Linked DNA regions of Homo sapiens. The protein of the gene in region 5 purifies or fractionates together with the protein of the main gene of each other region. This does not show direct contact. Each region holds a gene or a part of one and is shown on either strand. Other genes may lie near its edges. The genes, in order: CPT1A, CYP20A1, RDH10, SLC25A17, SLC11A2, CACNA2D1 and EXD2.

Region 1 (3,500 bases), on a different chromosome or scaffold from region 5:
CTCACCAACATGAAAAAAAGCCTTTACCAACCCCGTAGGCAAAAATCTAGTCTTGTTTAAGTTGTACTTGTTAGATTCTTGGTAAGATTAAGCTTATTACCTACACTCATTGACCGTATTTTTCCTCTCTTGTGAACCACAGTTTCTGGTCTGACTCCTTATTTCTCTTGGATTATTTTTTTCCAAAGGCAACCACTTAGCCAGATTTCCCAGCTCCATTTACTCACCAGCTCCCCGTCCCCTACTGATGTCAAATGCTCCCTCCATTACACGTTATTTCCCAGGCCTGCTTTTGTACGAGGACTGCAGCATTTTATTTTTATTAAAAACAATTTTTTTAAAGATAGGGTCTCACTGTCATCCAGGCTGTAGTGCAGTGGCACGATCACGGCTCACTGCAGCCTCCACCTCCGGGGCTCAAGTGATCCTCCCACCTTAGCCTCCGGAGTACCTTGGACTACAGGCATGCGCCACCATGCTGGGCTAATTTTTTTTTTTTTTTTTTTGTATTTTTTGTACAGATAGAGTCTCCCCATATTGCCCAGTCTGGTCTCAAACTCCTGGACTCAAGTGATCCACCTGCCTCAGCCACCCAAAGTGCTAGGATTATAGGACTGAGACCACTTTAATCACAACAGTCTTCTAACTCCTACACTTTAAGTTTTAGGATTTGAAAAAGTACATGTCCACCTCCCCGTGTCCTGCCTCCGCCTGATTGCTTTTCTTTTCAAAAATGTTACAGGTGACTCTCAAATGTTAGCCTTTTCAAGCCTCAAGATCAACTGGGCAAGCTCCTCTCCTGAAGCCCCTGCCTGACCTCTCACTGTGTTCATATTAAATGTGTGAACTAAGCCAGGCATGGTGGCTCAGGCTTGTAATCCCAGCACTTTGGGAGGCTGAGGCAGGCGGATCACTTGAGGTCAGGAGCTCGAGACCAGCCTGGCCAACGTGGTGAAACTCCGTCTCTACTAAAGATACAAAAATTAGCCAGGTGTGGTGGCAGGCACCTGTAGTTTCAGCTACTCGAGGGGCTGAGGCAGGAGAATCACTTGAACCTGGGAGCCGAGTGAGCAGCCGAGGCTGCAGTGAGCCGAGATCGTGCCACTGCACTCCAGCCTGGGCAACAGAGTAAGGCTCCGTCTCAAAAAAAAAAAAACAGTGTGAACTGGGAACATCCCTTCCTCTATGGTTCTGAAGTTTTTTTTCATCCAAAATCATGGCTTTTTCTCCCTCTCCCTGGGGAGGAGTTGGGGGGCGAGTGCTCCTCGGCCTTCTTCCCAGAGTCCAGTCTGCTTTATACACGTATGCCTGGAAGGTGGGGCCCCAGATTCTCGTTTCTATTACATTCTCTTATTATATTTCCCACTTGGCCATCATCCTTGTGCAAGAAAGCTGGTGGTCTTTGTGCAACTCTGCGCTGGGCCGGCTCACTGGGTGTGCCTCTTAATCGTCAAAGCCTTTCTGCTGTTCCATCTCCTGAACAGACATAAATGTTCTTCCTGCCCAATTACCCTGTCATCTGCTAGAGGCATCCTCATCTTTCTTGTTTTAAGGGGACTGCCTCCCACACTTTTACTTTGAAGCAGTAGCTAGCTATTAATACACGATGCCACTTATCCTGTTAAGGAAAGAGCCCTATTACTAAGCCCCTTGACCAAGAGCTCTTATCAGGAATGGATGTTAAACGTGAAACGTCTTCTTAGGATCTGTGAAACTCACTATCTAGGCTCTTCTCTGACCCAACAGTATGGTTTAGTGTATGACTGGATTTACTGACACAAAACCAGCCTCTCACCGCTGGTGTACGCCACTGTGGGTGACTATTCTTTTCCTACAGTGCTGGATTCTAGTTGCTAAGATTTTATGGAGGGTCTCTGCACTTCCATTCATGCGGGAAGCTGGTCTGTGCTTCCTTTTTCTGCGTTTAGCTGCAGCACAGTGATGAGAGCCACAGGTTCTCGAACAAGCCTGCCTGCTTCCGATCTCAGTCCTGCTGCGTACGAGCTGGAGCCCTCAGGCAAGATGCTTCACCTCCGAGTGTGGAGGGCAGAGATGAAGAGATGCCTTCCTCGGGGCCGTCCTGAAGTTTCGCTCGCTCCTGCCAAGTACATGGCACAGTGGCTGGTGCCCCTTGCAGCTCATTCCCACACCTGGGCCACGTGGGTTCTGGGGAGCAGATGGGGTGGCTTCCTTTGTGGAGTCTCTGAGCTGCAAGCTCTTTGGAGTCACAAGGGTGGCTCCCTGACAACCTCTCACTTTGGTCCCTGGACCAGAGGCCTTTTCAGGTTTTCTACCTTGAGTCAACGTCACCAATTTGTACTGCTTGCAGAATAGTCATTTCAGCATGTTTCAAAATGTACTAAACTGGAGCGTGGCATTTCCTTACTAAACTCCTAAGTCCTGCGCTTACTTGCAGGGAATTCTTTTAAAAAAGAAAAAAATTTAAAAAGATAAAATAACATCCTTTCTGTAGGTAAGGTATCAACTGCTTGCATGCCCTCATACTGCACGTTTACGGGCAAAATCTGCTCATCAATTCTCAAAATCCAGCTCACTGATTCTGAGATGCGATGCCTCTATTCCATGTCACCTTTTAATCACATGATCTTTAGTCAATGATCTGTCACAGACAGGAGCTTGTCACTGTGCTCCTGGTACTCTGCCCAGCTGCTTCTGGTTTACGCATAGTGAGCATGTTACTTGGGAAAGCAAGGCTTCATAACTGTGACAGTCTTTACAGACTGTATTAGCATGCATTTTAAATACGATTTTGGCCCATTCATTCCAGTTCATCTGATATTAACACTGCCTCTTACTTCTCTGTAACTGTTTTCTTAACTTTAGGTGGAGAGAGCATAGACTCTGGAGCCGCTGGCCCGCTTTATCCCTGCCTAGTGCCACCCTGGCAAGCACCTGGCCTCTCTGCACCTGTTTCCTCACCTGTAAAATGGGAAAACAAGATTTTCTGAGGCATAATGGGGACTTGTAAATTTTTAAAAATGGGATAACAAGAGTGCCTCCCAGGTGCAGAGACAGTGAAGCATGAGGTACATGATGCACCAAGCAAAATTCAACAATGGCACAATCGTTACCAAGGTTGGGGGGGCAGTGCCACACGCTGCATATGTGTACAGCACTCAAGTTTTAATACAAGGCTGGGCACGGTGGCTCACGCCTATAATCCCAGCACTTTGGGAGGCCAAGGCGGGTGGATCACCTGAAGCCAGGAGCTCGAGACCAGCCTGCTCAACATGGTGAAACCCCATCTCTACTAAAAATACAAAAAATTAGCTGGGCATGGGGGCGCACACCTGTAATCCCAGCTACTCGGGAGGCTGAGGCAGGAGAACTGCTTGAACCCGGGAGGTGGAGGTTGCAGTGAGCCGAGATCATGCCATTACACTCCAGCCTGGGTAACAAGAGTGAGATTCTGTCTCAAAAAAAAAGTTGGGAATATCTCAAGCCAATGCCACGATGACTTGTGCTGCCCCCAGAAACCA
Region 2 (3,500 bases), on a different chromosome or scaffold from region 5:
TCCCTTTAAAAAAGCCTATTCCCTGAAGCTCTTACAAAAATGAAGTAATAAAGGTATATGTTTAACATGTATTTATTTATTTATTTGAGGGTTGTGCTTTGTCACCTAGGCTGGAGTGCAGTGGCATGATCATGGCTCACTGCAACCTCTACCTCCTGGGCTCAAGCAATCCTCCCACCTCAGCCTCCTGAGTAGTTGGGACTACAGGTGTGCGCCAGCACACCTGGCTAATTTTTGTATTTTTTGTAGAGATGCAGTTTCGCCATGTTGCCTAGGCTAGTCTCAAACACCTGGACTCACCCAATAAGCCTGACTTGGCCTCTCCAAGTGTTGGGATTACAGGCATGAGCCACCACACCCAGCTGGAAAATGTTTAAAATTTATTAAGTGAAAAGTAACTCATGCTGCAATGAACGTACTATGTAAAAATGTATGTATGTGGAACAGGGAAAAATATAAACAGTCACAGAAATGTGTTTAGGTTGGTAGCATTCTTTTTCCTCTTAAAAATTCCTTTTTTTGGCCGGGCGCTGTGGCTCACACCTGTAATCCCAGCACTTTGGGAAGCCGCGGTGGACAGATCACAAGGTCAGGAGATCAAGACCATCCTGGCTAACATGGTGAAACCCCGTCTCTACTAAAAATACAAAAAATTAGCTGGGCATGGAGGCACTCGCCTGTAGTCGCAGCTACTCGGGAGGCTGAGGCAGGAGAATCGCTTGAACTGGGGAGATGGAGGTTGTAGTGAGCCCAGATCATGCCACTGCACTCAAGCCTGGGCTGAGACCTCCAGAGTCTGGCTGAGACCTATGGAGTCTCACTCTGTCACCTAGGCTGGAGTACAGTGGTGCGATCTCGGCACACTGCAACCTCCACCTCCCAGACATTCTCCTGCCTCAGCCTCTCAACTAGCTGGGATTACATTCGCCCGCCTCCACACCCACTAATTTTTGTATTTTTAGTAGAGATGCGGTTTCCCCATGTTGGCCAGGCTGTTCTTGAACTCCTGACCTCAAGTTATACGCCCACTTTGGACTCCCAAAGTGCTGGGATTACAGGTGTGAGCCACGGCACCAGCCAAAAATTTCTTTAAATATTAGTGGTATATTATTCTCTCAATAAGTTTTTTTTTTTTTTTTTTTTGAGACAGTCTTGTTTTATTGCCTAAGCTGGAGTGCAGTGGCACAATCTCAACTCACTGCAACCTCCACCTCCCAGGTTTATTTTTTTTCTCATGCCTCAGCCTCCCAAGAAGCTGGGATTACAGGCATGTGCCCCAAAGGCCAGTTAAGTTTTCTTTTTCTTTTTTTCTTTTTTCTTGGTTGAGACGGATTTTCGCTCGTCACCCACACTGGAGTGCAATGGCGCGATCTCGGCTCACTGCAACCTCCGACTCTTGGGTTCAAGCGATTCTCCTGCCTCAGCCTCCCGAGTAGCTGGGATTAGAGGCACCTGTCACCACGCCCGCTACTTTTGGTATTTTTAGTAGAGATGGAGTTTCACCACGTTGGCCAGGCTGATCTCAAACTCCTGGCCTCAAGTGATTCACCTGCCTTGGCCTCCCAAAGTGCTGGAATTACAGGCCCGGCCTATTTTTGCAATAATTATGAATAGCACACCATTTAAACCTGTTGATTGAGCCCTCCTTAAATAACTAAATACACTACTGGCCAACATGGTGAAAACCTGTCTCCACTAAAAACACAAAAAAATGGCCGGGCACAGTGGCTCATGCCTGTAATCCCAGCACTTCAGGAGGCCAAGGGGTGTGAATCACCTGAGGTTAGGAGTTCAAGACCAGCCTGGCCAACATGGTGAAACCCTGTCTCTACTAAAAAAAAATACAAAAATTAGCTGAGTGTAGTGGCACATACCCGTAGTCTCAGCTACTCAGGAGGCTGAGGCAGGAGAATTGCTTGAACCTGGGAGGCAGGGGTTGCAGTGAGCCAAGATCGTGCCACCACACTCCAGCCTGGGTGACACAGCGAGACTCCATCTCAAAATAAATAAATAAATAAAAAGAAAGGGACCGAGCGCGGTGGCTCATGCTTGTAATCCCAGCACTCTGGGAGGCTGAGTTGGGCAGATCACAAGGTCAAGAGTTCAGGACCAGCCTGACCAACACGGTAAAACCCCATCTCTACTAAAAATACAAAAATGAGCTGGGTGTGATGGCACGCGCCTGTAACCCCAGTTACTCAAAAGGCTGAGGCAAGAGAATCGCTTGAACCTGGGAGGCAGAGGTTGCAGTGAGCCGAGATCACGCCACTGCATTCCAGCCTGGTGACAGTGAGACTCTGTCACACACACACAAAAAAGATAAAGAATGACAAAAATCTGTGCCTACATTCAGAGTGACAAGAATACTAATGTTCTGCTTGTAGAAAAGACTATTGGTTCAGAATATGTTAAATGCAAATAATATTTTGTATAATATATATAAATTACATATGCATAAAAAGAGTATCTATATTAGAATCTTTTGAGACAGGGTCTTGCTCTGTCAACCATGAGGGAGTGCAGTGGCACTACCACAGCTCACTGTAGCCTTGACTTCCTGAGCTCAAGCCATCCTCTCGCCTCAGCCTCCTGAATAGTTGGGACTGCAGGTGGTGCCACCAAGGCTGGCTAAGTTTTTATATTTTTTTATAGAAACAAGCTTTTGCCACGTTGCCCAGGCTGGTCTCAAACTTCTAAAAGCTCAAGCAATCTGGCCGCCTTGAACTCCCAAAGTGCTTGAGTTATAGGCATGAGTCACTGTGCCCGGCCTACATTAGAATCTTAACAGTGGGGCTGGGCATGGTGCCCCATGCCTGTAATCCCAGCACTTTGGGAGGTCAAGGTGGGCAGACTACTTGAGGTTGAGGAGTTCGAGGCCAGCCTGGCCAACATGGTGAAACCCCATCTGTACTAAAAACACAAAAATTAGCCAGGTGTGGTGGCACATGTTTGCAATCCCAGCTACTTGGGAGGCTGAGGCGGGAGGATCACTTGAACCTGGGAAGCAGAGGTTGCAGTGAGCCGAGATGGTGCCATGGCACTCCAGCCTGGGCAATAGACAGCGGGACTCAGTCTCAAAACAAAAAAAAAAAAAAAAAAAAAAGAATCTTAACAGTGGTTAACTTCAAATAGTGAAACTATGACTGTTAACTGAGTTTGACATTTTTGTGTTTTCCTAGATTTTTCTACAATAAACATTATTATTTCATAATAAAGCAGTAAAGACTTTTTATACAAACTATTTTAAGATAAACAAATTTTGACATAGGGGTTATAAGTTAGGTAGAATCTATTTATATAAAAAATGGAACTGTACTTTTGTGGGCCAAATAAGCACTATGTAAGTTTTTTTAATTTTCCCAAACACATGCACAGAATTAATATTGCCTTAAATTTTGTTAGCACAAGTTTGAGAGAGCTCTTTAGTTCATAAAAAAATGTTTTATGGACCAGGTGCCGTGGCTCACACCTGCAATCTCAACACTTTGGGAGGCCCAGGT
Region 3 (3,500 bases), on a different chromosome or scaffold from region 5:
GTGCAGTGGCGCGATCTCGGCTCACTGCAAGCTCCGCCTCCCAGGTTCACGCCATTCTCCTGCCTCAGCCTCCCGAGTAGCTGGGACTACAGGCGCCCGCTACCACGCCTGGCTAATTTTTTGTATTTTTAGTAGAGACGGGGTTTCACCGTGTTAGCCAGGATGGTCTCGATCTCCTGACCTCGTGATCCGCCCGCCTCGGCCTCCCAAAGTGCTGGGATTACAGGCGTGAGCCACCGCGCCCGGCCAAAACTCTATTCTTAAGTCACTCAATAAATATTTGATAATAATAGGCTTAAATATTTAGAAGATAACCTATTCAGAGAATACTCACATGGGTCTATGTTCTGAAGTTTTAAAAGGTAAGCATTATGGGCTGGGCACGGTGGCTCACACCTGTAATCCCAGCACTTTGGAAGGCCAAGGCAGGCGGATCACTTGATGTCAGGAGTTCGAGACCAGCCTGGTCAACATGGAGAAACCCTGTCTCTACTAAAAATACAAAAAAAGTAGCCGTGGTGGTGCTAGCCTGTAATCCCAGCTACTCAGGAGGCTGAGGCAGGAGAATTGTTTGAACCCGGGAGGCCGAAGTTGCAGTGAGCAGACATGGCGCCACTGCACTCCAGCCTGGGTGACAGAACAATACTCCATCTCAAGAAAGAAAAAGGTGAGCATTATGTTGGACTAAAGCTGTGTAAGACCATTATTGCAAACCAGGGCTGTCTCACCCTTGTTGTCACTCATATTTTCTTTTGCTTTCCTACATAACTTTCCATTCTCCCTGTCCCACATGTGTTCTGATTTTTACTATTTTGTGTTAGAACTCTGCTCATTGGTGTGAGGCTAGTGACTTGATAAGGCTGGTGTTGGTATGCCAGTTTGAATGAAGCTCACAATGAATGTGTAACAGCCATTCATATTTACCAATGATCAGTCCTCAAAAAGAGGACCCCCTTGGCAATTCTTTCCTTCCCTCTTAACCATGTACCATTTCTGTACCCTTTGGAAGCCTTTCCTCAGCCTGGCATAATTCTGTACAGCCTTCCAGTCTGCTGTGACGCTTCATCTTCCAATGTTGTTCCATCACCAGTAGCTCTCCTAGGAACCTTCTCCTGGTCACCAGTCAAGACTTAGTGATAGATTTGGGGTAGGTTCTAGTCAGCATAATCTACTGTGAAACACCCAGTACAAGACCATGGAAAATGAATGCACTATCATGCACTTTAACACTAGCATAGAAATTATTCATGTGGGCTGTTTGTATCTGGGTGAGATGTAAAAACTTGAAAGATACCTCTCTTGGGCGGGGTGCAGTGACTCAAGCCTGTAATCCCAACACTTTGGGAGGCCGAGGAGGGTGGATTGCTTGAACCCAGGAGTTCAAGACCAGCGTTGGCAACATGGCGAAACCCTGTCTCTACCAAAATACAAAAATTAGCTGGGCGTGGTGGCACGTGCCTGTAGTCCCAGCTCCTCAGGAGGCTGAGGCAGGAGGCTGGCTTGAGCCCAGGGGTTGTAGACTGCAATGAGCTGAGATCGCAACACTGCACTCCAGCTTGGGTGACGAGAGCCAGACTCTGTCTCAAAAAAAGGAAAAGAAAAATATCTCTCTGTATTCTACTTTGAAATATGGAAAGTTGGTCTCCATGCAAACCCATGTTTTCCTCAAAGTACTAACATTGCTTTACTTGTTATTTTTTAAGAGAAGTAGAATCTTAGCTTGCTATTTCTAAAAGCCAAAGTTTATCTGTAGATCCTTTTTAACCGAAGAGCTGCATTTGGCCTTTATACGTGAGCAGCAAATTGATCCCTGATTAACCAAAAGGGGGAAGCAAAAGCATTTAACTCCAGGCCTTTTATATTCTGAAGAATTTTTGCATGGTAAAGGACTAAATCTGTCAAATAGCTAGTAGGTAATTTACTTCTATTGATATGGTAGTCAGACAAGATAATTGGTAGTTAATTAATAGACCACTTAACTTAAAAGGTTTCACAGTTTTAAAATACTAATTACTGAATTAAGCATTTATCTATATCCAAATGTCTAAAGTCTATTTAGTTAAAATCTATCCAGGAAAAGTAAAAGCCCACCAGCTAGATCTGAGTAATGTAGCACTTAAAGACATTAGTGCTGCAGTTGTACCTAATATCTCATAAATGGTCCCTAATCATTAATGTTTAGGTTCTTATGTGATTTACTGGTTTTTAATCTCACATACTGCATTCCTGTGTTCTCTGGTTACAGAAACTAGTTTTGTTCAAGGTTTCTTACATTTAGAATTTCAAAAATCATTTCTAAAGTATTCATAAAAATATTTGGCCAGTATTTCTCCTTACCATAATAACTGTAAGACTAATTAGTTTATAGAGAATATTGATTTCCTATCTTAAGATAGCTACTAAACACTTGGAATTCATGGCCTATTTTTAGAAGTCTCCAGTAGAACTGGTTTCTGTTATTAAATATATGTCATATGTATAAAAATGTTTGAACTTTAGAAGTACTTTCAATGTCTTAAACAGAGTTGTAAATTGACCTGGGGTCAATTTTATCTTATTCTTGTAGTCACAGTTGAAAACTGAGTAAAACATCTCTTTTGATAGGAACTGCTTGGTACCTGGGACTGAATACCTATATACACCAAATAGGATCACATGCTCATTGAACTTTGAGTTTCTGTATTTGATACATTACATGCTGGGCCCAAATCTGTTGCTACTAGAAATCAAAATCTATGACATGATAAAATATCACTTTACATAGCTGGTGTGAATAGGGAACCAGACGCTGCATCAGATAAAAAGTTCTCCAACATCTTCAATATGTTCTAATCTGTGTCTGTTTTTCTCAGTTGTTTAAAAAATAACTGCTAAATAACCAATGTCATAATTTCTAACCTAAATGAAAAAAACAGCAATGCTCCCCTCATTGCCAAATCCAGTGTGCAGCTTCATCTTTCTACAGAATGTGACCCTCTTGACCGTCTCCTTGAAACTCAAGTGCTTTAGCTTCCATGATAAGCCCACTTTGTCGTGCTTCTCTGTCTGCCTTCAACTACCTTGACTGCGCCACACATTCTCTTAAAGCAGCATGTCACAAAACTGAACAAACTCCTCTTTGCTCCTTCTTGCATTCCCTGGTCACCAGGCTTAGAAACATCAGCATTATCTTCACCTCTCCAGCCTGCGTACATTCATGGGTCCCCAAATCCTGACTATTTGCTTGTGCCCCTGTGCTTTGATTGATCGCCCCTTTCCTTTCCTACTTCATCCTGTGTGCCTCCATCACCTCTTGCCTGGACTCTTGAAAGTGCCTCTGATCTTCTTTTCCTGTATTCGCTTTTGGCTTTCCAACCTAGGGTCATCTAAGCAGCCTTGAGTTTGTTATCTGCCTGCTTAAAACACTTGTATGACCATATTGCTCACAGCGTGAAGTCCAGGCTCATTAGCATGGCATCCTGGGCCTTCCAAAGCTGATTTCCACCTGCTTTTCCAGGTCA
Region 4 (3,500 bases), on a different chromosome or scaffold from region 5:
AACAGAATTCCAAATGATCCAGCAATCCCACTTCTGGGTATATATCCAGAAGAATGGAAAGCAGGCTCTCAAAGAGAGAGCTACACATCCATTTTCATAGCACTATTCACAACAGCCAAAAGATGGAAGCAACTTAAGTGCCTATTAACAGATGAATGGATAAACAGAATGTGATATATACATATAATGGAATATTATTCAGTCATAAAAAAGTAAGGAAGTCATGTCACATGCTGTATGGCATGGATGAAAGTAGAAGACATTATACTAAGTGAAGTAAGCCAGTCACAAAAAAAACAAGTAGTGTATGATTCGACTTATATCAAGTATCTAAAGTAGTCAAATTCTTAGAAACCGAAAGTAGAATGGTGGTTACTAAGGGGCTCAGGGAAAGGGAAAAGGGGAGTTTAATGAGAATAGAATCAGGTCTGCAATATGCAAAAGTACTGGAGATTTGTTTCATAACATTGTGAACATGTTTAACACTACTGACCTTACACTTAAAATTAACATGGTAAATTTTATGTCACGTTTTTTAACACAATTAAAAAAAAAAAAACCAAGTTGGAAAACTGGCTATATTCTTTGTAAGCATTACTTTGGGCTAAATAACCTCTTAGAGGATATAAAACCACAAGGTAAATATAAAAACATTTTATACCCAGAAAACCTTGTTACCTGCAACAAACCCAACTACCAGATCTTTTCCAGTGGTAGAATGTTGACCTTTGACCCAGAGTGCTTTGAGGCTATTAAAAGTGTAGAAATAGACAAAATTGGAGCAGCAGAGACTGGAAATCACTGGAAACCACCCTCGATATGGTGCCAGGCTAGGGGAAAAACACAATAAGCAAAGTAAAGGTCATGGACAAATTAGAAATTGGCAGAGAAATCCTAGGAAAGGCTGACCATCATTCACATGGTCTCAAGCTTCACTCCTACACGAATACAAGGGACTCCAAACTGTACACACACCTCACATTCTGAAGGATGTCCAAATCAAGAAATCTATTCTAGCACTAATGATACCAAAGAAACAACACAAAGTCTGATTGATTTATTAATTCCCTCCCTTAATTTTCTTTAGTAACATTGGTATATAAAATTAGAGACAACTTCCTCATGGCTGTTAGTTAATAGAGTACCATTCATGTTTTATTACAGGGCAAGAACAGTTAAAATGAAGTAATTATAGGAAATAAGTATCAAAAAAAAAAAAGATGGGGGAATTCACAAGGGCACAGGAGCTCACAGGAGCTCCTACAGGCCAAATCTGGGGCAATTTGAATACCAAAATAATGAAGTACAGTAATCAATTGTAAACCATTGAAAAATAGACATTTCTGAGCCTATACCAATAATAAGTAGATAAATAAATGAAGGAGAAGGGGAGGTCCTGCTTATAGCAGAATGCCAACATTGGTACCTGTAGAGGCAATGCTGGAGTTGGAAAGTCGTCATTTTGCAACTTCGTGGTAAATTTAGGGGAAAAATGTTGATAAAGCACAGGATATTTGTATTGTTTTGAAGTATCTCCACATAGACTGCTTATAGTTGCAAGGGAAGAAAAAAGTAATTGCACAGTGGCTAAATCAAATTTAAGAAATCATAATTAGCCAACCAAAGGCAGGCAGACAATATGTGAGTCAAGATGTGATATCTTGAGAAGGACACAATATCACCTGTGCATTATTCAGGCCAATAATGTATAACCTCAATGGAATCATGAGGAAATGTGAGGCAAACTTAAAAATGAGAAACTTTCTATTTTCTTTTTTTTTTTGAAACGGAGTTTTGCTCTTGTTGCCCAGGCTGGAGTGCAATGGCGCGATCTCGGCTCACCGCAACCTCCACCTCCTGGGTTCACGTGATTCTCCTGCTTCAGCCTCCTTAGTAGCTGGGATTGTAGGCATGCGCTACCACGCCCGGCTAATTTTGTATTTTTAGTAAAGACGGGGTTTCTCCATGTTGGTCAGGCTGTCTCGAACTCCTGACCTCAGGTGATCCGCCTGCCTCGGCCTCCCAAAGTGCTAGGATTACAGGCGGACTGTATTGTTTAAAAGTGTCAGTGTCATGGGGCTAAAAGGCTTTGATGTATGTAACTTACTCTCAAATAATTCAGAGGAAATTTGTGTGTGGTGTGTGTAAGGAGAGAAGGGAGGTGGGAGAGAGACAGCATGAGCAAAAATAGTAAAACAAACAGGAAAAGATGTTAACAGATGAATCTGGGTAAAGCATATACTTGTCTTCTTTGTACTAAGTTTAGTTTTGCAAATTTTTGTAAATTTAAAATTATTTCCAATAAAAAGCTAAAACAAGAAGTACATAATCTGTCTTAATGCACCTGACAGGAATGAACTAAACAACTATTATTTTTTTTTCAGTTTACTGTATATAAAACAATGCATTTTAGTTTCATGGAAGACTCCATGATCAAGAATCAAATGGCTTAAGGTAAGCATTGTACAAAAATAAATAAAAAGAATCAAATGCCTCACTACAGATCTTTAAGAAACTGAAAACAATTATGTACTTATAAATCAGGCAATTCCAAATTCACAACATTAGAGTGCTGTGAGAAAGATAGAAAGTAAGCATAACTCTACTGGAAGCACAGGAATCTCCTAACAAGTTGCTTTAACGAAGGTGAACTGAGGTAGTACTCACAGTCCTTCTTCTTTAATGATCTCCAGGAGCACCATGTGTGTAGTTTTGGATTTTCTTTTCTCATCAACTACAAGACCAAACAGTGCATGTTTATTTTATTAATTAAAAAAAAAATTTTTTTTTTGAGACAGAGTCTCACTCTGTCGCCCAGGCTGGAGTGCAGTGGCGTGATCTCAGCTCACTGCAACCTCCACCTCCTGGGTTCAAGCGATTCTCCTGTTGCAGCCTCCCAAGTAGCTGGGATTACAGGTGCACACCACCATGCCCAGCTAATTTTTGTATTTTAGTAGAGGCGGGGTTTCGCAATTTTGGCCAGGCTGGTCTTGAACTCCTGACCTCAAGTGATCTGCCCACCTCGGCCTCCCAAAGTGCTGGGATTATAGGCATGAGCCACCGTGCCCCGCCTATTTTTTAATATTTTTAGAGACGGAGTCTCACTATGTTACCCAGGCTGGTCTCAAACTTGTGGGCTCAAGGGATCCTCATGCCTCAGCCTCCCAAAGTGCTGGGATTACAGGCGTGAGCCACCATACCCGGCCCGTGTATGTTTAAACTAAATCCTTTGAGGATTATAATTGTTAACATCAGCAAGTTTCACTGAAATGCCATTTACCTCACCTTTGAGCTCCCTAGGTTGCCCCAGAACTAAATGATGCCCCTGTGTGACCATGTGCTAAATTCCCACTGCAGATCCCTTGCCCTTCATCTGTTACTCATGAACCATAAAGCAGTCTAATTTAATTCCTAATTTCCAAAGGAAAAGACGACAGAAAACATTTCTTCCTTTTTTTTTTTTTGAGACGGAGTCTCGCTCTGTCACCCAGGCTGGAGTG
Region 5 (3,500 bases):
TTACAGATGTGAGATACTGTGCCTGGCCTGTTTTTTTGAGATAGGATCTTGCTCTATTACCCAGACTAGAGTTCAGTGGCACAATCATGGCTCACTATACCCTTGACCTCCCAGGCGCAAGCAGCCTTCCTACCTCTGTCTCTTGAATAGTTGGGACCACAGGTGTGCACCATGATACCCAGCTATTTTTAAAATTTTTTGTAGAGACAGGGTTTTGCCATGTTGCCAAGGCTGGGCTTGAACTCCTGGGCTCAAGTAATCCTCCCACCTCTGCCTCCCAAAGTTCAGGGATTATAGGTGTGAACTACCATGGGTGACCTGACAAATTTTTTGGATGCTAGCTATCTGGAGGTGTTTTTTTCTGGCTTCAGTGAGTCAGCATAACTAAATCTGATTTTCAGCTGTATTGTTTGGCCAGATAAGTTTCTGACTTTGTTATATGCCACCCAGTTCCAACCATCTTCCCTTGAGTCCTTTTGCATACGTGGGCATTATTATTACATTAAAGGTGACTCCAACCTTTTCTGTTGTTGTGGTGGTGGTTTGTTGAGACAGTCTTGCTCTTGTTTGTTGCCCACTCTGGAGTGCAGTGGCATGATCATAGCTCACTGCAGCCTTGACCACTGGGGCTTAGGCTGTCCTCCTGCCTCAGCCTCCCAAGTAGTTGGGACTACAGGTGTATGCCATCATGCCTGGATACTTTTGTACTTTTTTTTTTTCCTATAATTTTTATTTTAGGTTTGGAGATGGATACATGTGAAGGTTTTTTCTTTCTTTCTTTCTTTTTTTTTTTTTTTTTGTGAAAGCAAGTTTATTAAGAACGTAAAGGAATAAAGAAAGGCTATTCCGTAGGCAGAGCAGTCACATGTGAAGGTTTGTTACATAGATAAACACGTGTCATGGGGGTTTGTTGTACATATTATTACATCACCCCGATATTAAGCCCAATACACAATAGTTAACTTTTCTGCTTCTCTCTCTCCTTCCACCCTCCCCCATCAAGTAGACCCCAGTGTCTGTTGTTTCTGTCTGTGTGTTCATAAGTTCTTATCATTTTGCTCCCAATTTTTATACTTTTTGTAGAGATGGGGTTTTGCCATGTTGCCCAGGCTGGTCTCAAACTCCTGGGCTTAAGGGATCTACGTTGGCATCCCAAAGTGCTGAGATTACAGGAATGAGCCACTGTGCCTGGTCCACCCCAACCTTTTTTTTTTTTTTTTGAGATGGAGTCTCGCTTTGTTGTCCAGGCTGGAGTGCAGTGGCGCAATCTCAGCTCACTGCAACCTTCGCCTCCCGGGTTCAAGCAATTCTCCTGCCTCAGCCCCCTGAGTAGCTGGGATTACAGGCATGTGCCACCATGCCCAGCTAATTTTTGTATTTTTAGTAGAGACGGGGTTTCGCCATGTTGGCCAGGCTGATCTTGAACCCTGTCCTCAGGTGATCCACCTGCCTCAGCCTCCCAAAGTGCTGGGATTACAGGTGTGAGCCACCGCGCCCAGCCTGACCCCAACCTTTTCATGTTTGTTTTGTCTTCCCAGCTATGGTCAGGATAGATATGTTCTTCTGCAATCATTTAATATTCTTTCTTGACCCATATTTGGACCGTATTAGCATCCTTATTCTCCTCTAAACTTTTTAGGATTGTTTTTAGGAAATTAAGTGGAAGTTAGTAAATGGCAATTATATTCTTCTCAAGTAGAAAGGAAAAAGAAAAAAGTAAGATCAATTACTGCCTTGACCTTCGTTCACAGGTTCTGCCACGTGGTAGCACACTTTTCCTTCTCCAGGTGAGAGCCACAGTGCAGTGATCGGCCAAGTGGAGGCACGTTCTGGTATTTCTTCTCTAGTCTGGAGGCTTATAAAGGACTGTTTATGGTTTAGTGCCAAAATGTGAATTCCAAATTGTGGAGGAATTTTTTAGAAATGATTAATCAGAACCGTGTCTTTCTACTGTTTGATGTTTAGGTCCCACGAGTCATCCTGTGGCTGATGGTGGAGTTGGCTATCATCGGCTCAGACATGCAAGAAGTCATTGGCTCAGCCATTGCTATCAATCTTCTGTCTGTAGGAAGGTGAGGGGTTTTCCTCTAGAAAGTCATCAGTGTTTTGCTGGATTTCCAAGCAGAGATAAAAACAAAAACCCAATTCATTTTTAATTTTGAAGACTCAACTCAATTGTTATTTCTTCTGTGGAACCTTTCTGGAAACAATTTCTTCTCCCCTGGTAGATGTAGACTCTACATCTTCCGTTTCCCATGGTGGGTTATGCTTACCTTTATTAGAATGTGTGGCGTTTTGTATCGCAATTATTGATTTGTATGTCATTTTATCCCGCTAGATACTATCTTTTTATTTTATTTTATTTATTTATTTTTTTGAGACAGAGTCTTTCTCCGTCACCCAGGCTGGAGTGCAGTGGTATGATCTTGGCTCACTGCAACCTCCGCCTCCCAGGTTCAAGCAATTCTTGTGCCTCAGTCTCCTGAGTAGCTGGGATTACAGGCACCTGCCACCATGTCCAGCTAATTTTTGTGTTTTTAGTAGAGACGGGATTTCACCATGTTGGCCAGGCTGGTCTCTAACTCCTGACCTCAGGTCTAGGAATGCCCGCCTCAGCCTCCCAAAGTGCTGGTATTACAGGCGTGAGCCACTACACCCAGCCCCCACTAGATACTATCTATCTAATCCTATAAAATTCTATCTGTCTAACTCCATGAGGGTAAGACCCAAACTTTTCAGCTTTGTATCCTAAGAGTGACATAGTAGACTCTCAAAGTTTAAATGAATGTAATTAAGTTGATGCTGTTACCCTACTTTACCCAAGGCCTAGTTTTCTGCCATTGTCCCTCCTCCCTCAAGTCCTAGCTTCTCCAAGTGTTCTTTATCTGGAGAGCTGTTGGGAAGAGAGTGTTTTTCAATGTTTCCTTTCTTTCCGTCTCTCTGACTTCCATATCTCATCTCTGACCTAGAATTCCTCTGTGGGGTGGCGTTCTCATCACCATTGCAGATACTTTTGTATTTCTCTTCTTGGACAAATATGGTAAGGAGAGCGGGAATGGGAGGGTCAAAGGAGCTGCTCTCTGTCATGTGGCAGATGGGGAAGTCTACCTTCTCTGAGCTCACTGCTGCCTTTTTTCCTTTAGGCTTGCGGAAGCTAGAAGCATTTTTTGGCTTTCTCATCACTATTATGGCCCTCACATTTGGATATGAGGCAAGTGGTACAGGATATTCATTAGCTTCTTAAAATAAGTTTTTGTGGTTTTTTTTTTTAGCCTTTTATTATAAAAGACAGTAATAATGCTAGTATGATTCACTTATAGTGGGTGTATCAACAAAAAGCCAATTTTTCCCTGGGCCAATTTTAAAGGAATATGATCTATAGCAAAGATTAGCATGCAGAAAGGCCTGCAGGGGCTCCCAGGTTTAAAATGACTAGATATTTTAGGGCTTTCCAGACTAGATTCTTTGGTCCCAAGTTGACCATCTGACAACAGAACAGC
Region 6 (3,500 bases), on a different chromosome or scaffold from region 5:
TGTAAGTATTTGTTCTTATTAATAAAAATATGTATTCTGCATTTCAATTTAGTTTCTCCTGTGGAAATTGGGTATGAATCTCATAAATTTACAGTTCATTAATAATGTTTAATATTTCTCAAGAAAATCACTATACAGTTGTTGACAACTTGCATTTTCAGTTGTGGGTGTTTTTCAGTACTAATGTCTGCTATTACTCAACTTTTCATGCACATACACTTCAGGGTGAATACACCAAATTAAATGGGCATGATTGTGTGTTTCTGTTTGTGCTAAAGTAGGATTTCTAGTCAGTGTTTATTTGGGTTTCTAATAGCATTACCATACATCCAGTTGAGAAAATCTGAGTATGATTCTTATTTAAAATCTCTTCTCCACCCCATTTTCAGTCACTAAATGCTAAATATTTCTCCTAGCAATGTTTTCTTCTCTACCTCATAATGAAGGCCCTAAGATCCCATTTCTAAGAAATCACAGCAACTGATTTTTCTGCCTTTAGTGTTCTCCATTCCTCCACATGCAGCTTCTAGACAATTCTCCATACAACTCATATTGGCCAGAATCTAACTCCTAAAATGCAGTTCTAAGTTCAAGATACAGGTGAAGCTCTCTAAGATGGAATTCAAAATCATTCATTAGCTGACCATTGAGGAACTTGCACTTGAAACTTTACTTCTTACTGTTTCTCTCCTTTTGTCTTACGTTTTTTTTCTATACCAAACACCAGCCATCTCTGGTAGCTTTCCCTTATGTATACATTCCTCTCTACAAGTGATACCTTCCTGCTTTCTGTGTCATTGCTGTCAATTCATACTCCATGTTCAAAATGCACCTCAGTCATTATTTCCTATGAGATGTCTTCCTTAAACATCCTTCAAGTACAAATTTAATAGATATTTAAATTATTAAAACATAGTTGTGTATCTATTGATATATTTCCTTTACTTCCTAAACTTACTTCTCTTTGTATCACCAACACCTAACTTTGTTTTTTAGAATATGTTCAATAGAACATTTCCTTGTTTTGTCTTCTGTTTCAGCAAGGGAGTGAAAGCACGATTTGTTGTGACTGATGGTGGGATTACCAGAGTTTATCCCAAAGAGTAAGTTCAAATAACATCTGTAAAAACAAGTACATTACAAAAGACTGCGCCAAGGATTTGTACATTACTGCTTAAGGAAGCCATTCTTCAAATAAACTGATTGCCATTAGATTACATTGGAGCCATTGTTTACAGTATTTACATTATTAAAAGATTTTATTTCTCTGAAAAATGACATTATAAAATTCTTCAATGATGTTTTTGCTTGCCAAATATGTTTATTACAACATTTAAGAGACGTTTAAAGAGATTTTTCTCTTTGTAGATACAAGCTAAACCAGTGAAATGAACACAATGATTATAACCAATCAGCAATATTTATGTAGCACTTTATTATCTTTCACTCTTCTTTGATGCATCTTATCTCTATTATCTTCGTAACAGTCCATGAAGTAGGCTGAGTAGGCACCAATGCTTACTAACATTAATTGACCTATTAACTTACTTGTCCTGTTACCTGACTAGTAAACAACGGAGTAAAACTAGGAGTTAGCTTTTTCTGATTCTTAATTTAGTGCTATGCTGATGCATTGCTCAGTAATGAGTATCAGTTATGCTATCAATTACCACTAACTTCTTTAGACATACCTGAGATGTAGGCGTATCTGTAAAGCTCAGCAAGTCCACATAGGATAAAGTAGGTTATCAGGTAGATTAAAGAATACAAATGATGAGCCATTTCCTCCTTAGGGCTGGAGAAAATTGGCAAGAAAACCCAGAGACATATGAGGACAGCTTCTATAAAAGGAGCCTAGATAATGATAACTATGTTTTCACTGCTCCCTACTTTAACAGTAAGTATTGCTTTGGAATTCAGCTTTTCTCAATTTTTTAAATAATAAATTACTGCTACTATCTGCTCTCCCCCCAAATCACTACATTTTATGTTAACTACTCAGAATAGTCATCATTAAAAATAGAGTATTTGCAAGGCATTAGGAAAATAGAAAAGAAACATCATTTAGTTGAAGAAGCAAAATGCATACACAGCAAACAGTCTTCCAGTAATTTAGAGATAGCATATCTGTTAGGCATGCATAAGAAATAGAAACACATGTAGATAATCCCTCATATTACAACTGAAAATGTATTGAAAAACATTTAAGGAATTAAATAGAGTAATTCCATTGATTAATTACATTTTATCAGTATTATAAAATATAATTATACAATTAATAATAGCTTATCTTTTAAAATATTTTATTGACTTATTTCCCAAAAACCTTGTAATTTAATCCCTGAACATCTTTGCACATAGGTAGTATTTACCTTCATTTTCCTAAATGGGGAAACAAGTTCAGAGAATTTCAAAGTTTTGCCCAGTGACATACGTCTTATAAAAGACAAAGTCAGTTTTATGCATCCAGGATCAATCTTTCCACTTCACTTCAGCAGAACTACTTAATATTTTAACAAATGTTGTGAAGTAGAGATTTGGCATGTATTCATTATGTTGTGAAAGCAGATGCAACCAAGCTAATTAATGTCCCCGAATCAATTAATACAAACCAATTCATGGATATACCAGTTAGCCTAGTGTATACAACGGAAGAAGAGAGGAAGGAGAGCACAAACATTTTATAGTTTGTAGATGCTAGAATTTTTAAGCAAAATACTATCCATTTGTATCTAATGACGGAAAATCAATATTATTATTCAATATATCTTGATAGGTGTTTTATTTATTTATTTTTTTTTTAGAAAGTGGACCTGGTGCCTATGAATCGGGCATTATGGTAAGCAAAGCTGTAGAAATATATATTCAAGGGAAACTTCTTAAACCTGCAGGTAAGGATAAATATTAAATACAAAAACACAATCAAAATTAAATGTTACTTGGCATTTATATTATAAACTGGCAATGTTTATCAAGAAGGTCATCAAAAGGTGTCAAACAAAATAAAGGCATGCACACTTAAAAAAATTAAATAAAATATGACTAGTTACCTCTGAAGTTGGGATAAAATCAAATTGATACTACATAGATTTGAGGAATTTTCAAAACAGTGTGTATGTTTATACTCTGACACAAATTGATGGAATCAATTTAGTATAATAATCAAAATTTTTAATGTTGGATTAGCAACCCACCTCCAGAAGTCTCTCTTAATACTTTAAAATACGTACAAAGTTATATGGCCAAGGAGTTACATATTTGTACAAAAAAGTTAAGTTTCCAGCCCTGAGGGAAAAGATAAATATGGCATATTTATACTATATTCTAGTAGGCGTCTGTTAAAGTGAATTAGGTAGGGCTCAGTTAAAAACTTGCTATAAAATATATAGAAAAATGACTTTTTGGAAAAATAGGCAAGTAAACAAACATAGTAAAAGTGAGCATTAATGAGGATCGGAAGTGGGCTAGAGTGAGTGAATACAATAAAGTAAAAGCTATTA
Region 7 (3,500 bases), on a different chromosome or scaffold from region 5:
GTAAAATGTAGGTGGGCACAGTGGCTCATGCCTGTAATCCCAGTAGTTTGGGAGGCCAAGGTGGGAGGATCACCTGAGATCAGGAGTTTGAGACCGGCCTAGTCAGCATGGTGAAACCCCATCTTTAATAAAAATTCAAAAATTAGCCAGGCATTGTGGCATGTGCTTGTAGTCCCAGTTACTCAGGAGGCTGAGACATGAGAATCACTTGAACCCAGGAGGCGGAGGTTGCAGTGAGCTGAGATCATAACACTGCACTCCAGCCTGGGGGACAGAGTAAGACTCCATCACAAAAACAAAAACAAACAAAAAAAACCAACGTAAGATGTATTATACATGTAAAATATACACCAAATTTTTGAATACTTACTACAAAAAAAGGATGTAAACTTTTTATAATTTCCATACTGATTTTTTTTTTTTGAGATGGAGTTTTGCTCTTGTCACTCCGGCTGGAGTGCAATGGCACGATCTCAGCTCACTGCAACTTCTGCCTCCCGAGTTCAAGCAATTCTCCTGCCTCAGCCTCCCAAGTAGCTAGGACTACAGATGCCCGCCACCACACCCGGTTAATTTTTGTATTTTTAGTAGACACGGGGTTTTACCATGTTGGCCAGGCTGGTCTCGAACTCCTGACCTCAGGTGATCCACCCACCTCGGCCTCCCAAAGTGCTGAGATTACAGGCGTGAGCCACCACGCCTGGCCTCATACTGATTTTTATGGTGACTTCTTTATCGTGGTAAAATATATATAACATAACATTTACCATTTTAGCCTTTTTTTTTTTGGAGACAAGGTCTGGCTCTATCGCAAAGGCTGGAGTGCAGTGGCGCGATCTTGGCTCACTGCAACCTCCACCTCCTGAGCTCAAGCCATCCTCCCATCTTAGCCTCCCAAGTAGCTGGGACTACAGGTAGTCCCCACGATGCCTGGGTAATTTTTTTTTTGTATTATTTTTGTAGAGATGGGGTTTCACAATGTTGCCCGGGCTGGTCTCAGATTCGTGAGCTCAAGCGATCCCCTAGACTCGGCCTCCCAAAGTGCTGGGATTACAGGCCTGAGCCACCACGCCTGGCCCATTTTAGCCATTTTTAAGTGTACAATTCAATGACAATAAGTACATTCACACTGCTGTGCAACCATCACCATCACCCATTTCCAGAACAACTTCATCCTTGCAAATAGAAACTGTAATTCAACAAGAATTCCCATTCTCTTCTAACCCCTGATAAGCCCTATTATACCTTCTATCACTATGAATTCCATATTGATTTTTTAATATTTATGTTGAAATAATGCTTGGAATATACTGGGTTCAATATAGTCATGTGCTGTATAACAATGTTTCGGTCAACAACAGATGACACATACAATAGTTCTACAAAATTATAAGATTACAATGGTGCAGAAAAATTCCTATTGCCTAGTGACATCATAGCCATCCTAACCGTCCTAACGTTGCTGCACAATGCGTTACTCACAAATGTGTGTAATTATGCTGGAGTTAACGAACCTACAGCACAGCCAGTCGTATAAAAGTATAGCACATGCAATTATGTATAGCACATACCTGATAACGACAATAAACGACTATGTTACTGGTTTATTTATTTACCATATTTTTTATTTTACGGTGTACTCCTTCTACTTATAAAAAAAATTAACTGTAAAGCAACCTCAGGCAGCTCCTTCCGAAGTTATTCCAGAAGGCATTGTTATCATAGATACAGCTCCATGCCTGTTATTGCCCCTGAAGACTTTCCAGTGGGACAAGATGTGGAGGTGGAAGACAGTGATATTGATGATCCTGACTCTGTGTATGTCTAAGCTAACATGAATGTATGTGTTTGTGTCTTAGTTTTTAACAAAAAAGTTTAAAAAGGTAAAAAAAAAAAAATTTTAAGTTGAAAAGAGCTTATAAAGAGATAAACATTTTTATACAGCTGTACAACATATTTGTGTCTTAAGCTGAGTGTTATTACAAGTCAAAAAGTTAAAACAATTAAAAAGTTTATAAAATAAAAAAGTTATAGTAAACTAAGGTTAACTTATTATTCCAAAAAAATTTTAAATAATTTGAGTGTAGCCTAAATACACACGTGTTTATAAGATCTAAAGTAGTGTACAGTCACGTCCTAAGCCTTCACATTCACCCACCACTCACTCACAGGTTCACCCAGAGCAACTTCCAGTCCTGCAAGCTCCATGCATGGTAGATACCCTACATAAGTGTAACACTATTTATCTTTTCTTGAGACGGAGTCTCACTCTGTTGCCCAGGCTGGTGTGCAGTGGCGTGATCTCGGCTCACTGCAAACTCTGCCTCCCAAGTTCAAGCGATTCTCCTGCCTCAGCCTCCTGAGTAGCCGGGGCTACAGGCGTGTGCCACCACACAAGACTATTTTTTAAATTTTTAGTAGAGACGGGGTTTCACCATGTTGGCCAGGCTGGTCTCGAACTCCTGACCTCAGGTGATCTGCCCGCCTCAGCCTCCCAAAGTACTGGGATTATAGGCGTGAGCCTCCATGCCCGGCCCACTGTTTAGCTTTTATACCACATTTTTACTGTACTTTTATGTTTAGGTATGTTTAGATACACAAATACTTACCACTGTGTTACAACTGCCTACAGGACTCAGTACAATAACATGCCATATAGGTCTATAGCCTAGGAGTAATAAGCTATACCATACAGCCTAGGTGTGTAGTCAGCTATTCCATCTAGGTTCGTGTAAGTGTGCTCTATCGTGTTCACAAAATGACACATTTCACAGAACAGATCCTCATTAAGTGATGCCATTACTACAGTTCACCTTGTTTCTTTTTATATCTTTAATGTGGCTACTAGAAAATTTTAAATTGGGGCTCACATTCTACTTCTAATGGACACTACTGTGCTAAAATATAATGTGCAAGTAAGGAAATAGAGATGATGCTGGAATGAGTAGATACAGGACAAGTCATGAGGGGCCATCATTATCCTACAGGACACTGGAGAGCAAATAACAGACTTATAAGGAGAGTGACAGGATGAGACCACCATGGTACTAATGTGGGTGCTAGCCTGGAGGAGAGCAAGGCCGTAGGCAGAGAGACCTGTTAGAAGCTCATAAAGCAGAGCGGAGAGGCAAAGAATACTCGAATTATGGCAGAGGAATGTAGAATGAAAAAGAACCACAGCTCCTGAACAGAATGACTGCATCACAACCACCTGGAAAAACAACAAAGTCATCAACCAACTTTTAGAAATTATATGGTAATTCAGAAAGTCTGATGAGTATAAAATCAATAGCTTTCCAAACCTATTATAAAAATGTGAAAAAAGAAATCTCATTCATAATAGCAATATACCTGTATACTATTTTAAAACTACATAAAAAAACCACATAATCACATACACAAGTCTAGGAAAGAATTCAACAAGAAATGTGTCAGATCAATACAAAGAGGAACAGAAAACTTTAGTGAAGATCTAGAAGAAGACCAGAAGAGTGGAGATG

What was found.
Region 1: the proteins of SLC11A2 (region 5) and CPT1A purify together in Homo sapiens (affinity purification with mass spectrometry; one large-scale study listed by BioGRID and IntAct). This does not show direct contact.
Region 2: the proteins of SLC11A2 (region 5) and CYP20A1 purify together in Homo sapiens (affinity purification with mass spectrometry; one large-scale study listed by BioGRID and IntAct). This does not show direct contact.
Region 3: the proteins of SLC11A2 (region 5) and RDH10 purify together in Homo sapiens (affinity purification with mass spectrometry; one large-scale study listed by BioGRID and IntAct). This does not show direct contact.
Region 4: the proteins of SLC11A2 (region 5) and SLC25A17 purify together in Homo sapiens (affinity purification with mass spectrometry; one large-scale study listed by BioGRID and IntAct). This does not show direct contact.
Region 6: the proteins of SLC11A2 (region 5) and CACNA2D1 purify together in Homo sapiens (affinity purification with mass spectrometry; one large-scale study listed by BioGRID and IntAct). This does not show direct contact.
Region 7: the proteins of SLC11A2 (region 5) and EXD2 purify together in Homo sapiens (affinity purification with mass spectrometry; one large-scale study listed by BioGRID and IntAct). This does not show direct contact.

The regions. Positions count from the first base shown.
Region 1 is NC_000011.10:68,768,917-68,772,416, forward strand, and holds part of CPT1A (carnitine O-palmitoyltransferase 1, liver isoform), read right to left. Parts: intron 1-3,500. UniProt on the Homo sapiens protein: Catalyzes the transfer of the acyl group of long-chain fatty acid-CoA conjugates onto carnitine, an essential step for the mitochondrial uptake of long-chain fatty acids and their subsequent beta-oxidation in the mitochondrion.
Region 2 is NC_000002.12:203,301,518-203,305,017, reverse strand, and holds part of CYP20A1 (cytochrome P450 20A1), read right to left. Parts: 3' UTR 1-3,500.
Region 3 is NC_000008.11:73,301,102-73,304,601, forward strand, and holds part of RDH10 (retinol dehydrogenase 10), read left to right. Parts: intron 1-3,500. UniProt on the Homo sapiens protein: Retinol dehydrogenase with a clear preference for NADP. Converts all-trans-retinol to all-trans-retinal. Has no detectable activity towards 11-cis-retinol, 9-cis-retinol and 13-cis-retinol.
Region 4 is NC_000022.11:40,791,847-40,795,346, forward strand, and holds part of SLC25A17 (peroxisomal membrane protein PMP34), read right to left. Parts: intron 2,735-3,500; coding exon 2,668-2,734; intron 831-2,667; coding exon 679-830; intron 1-678.
Region 5 is NC_000012.12:50,998,885-51,002,384, reverse strand, and holds part of SLC11A2 (natural resistance-associated macrophage protein 2), read left to right. Parts: intron 1-1,965; coding exon 1,966-2,072; intron 2,073-2,969; coding exon 2,970-3,040; intron 3,041-3,143; coding exon 3,144-3,211; intron 3,212-3,500. UniProt on the Homo sapiens protein: Proton-coupled metal ion symporter operating with a proton to metal ion stoichiometry of 1:1. Selectively transports various divalent metal cations, in decreasing affinity: Cd(2+) > Fe(2+) > Co(2+), Mn(2+) >> Zn(2+), Ni(2+), VO(2+).
Region 6 is NC_000007.14:81,968,278-81,971,777, reverse strand, and holds part of CACNA2D1 (voltage-dependent calcium channel subunit alpha-2/delta-1 isoform 1 preproprotein), read left to right. Parts: coding exon 1-1; intron 2-1,040; coding exon 1,041-1,103; intron 1,104-1,793; coding exon 1,794-1,897; intron 1,898-2,804; coding exon 2,805-2,891; intron 2,892-3,500. UniProt on the Homo sapiens protein: The alpha-2/delta subunit of voltage-dependent calcium channels regulates calcium current density and activation/inactivation kinetics of the calcium channel. Plays an important role in excitation-contraction coupling.
Region 7 is NC_000014.9:69,197,998-69,201,497, reverse strand, and holds part of EXD2 (exonuclease 3'-5' domain-containing protein 2), read right to left. Parts: intron 1-3,500. UniProt on the Homo sapiens protein: Exonuclease that has both 3'-5' exoribonuclease and exodeoxyribonuclease activities, depending on the divalent metal cation used as cofactor.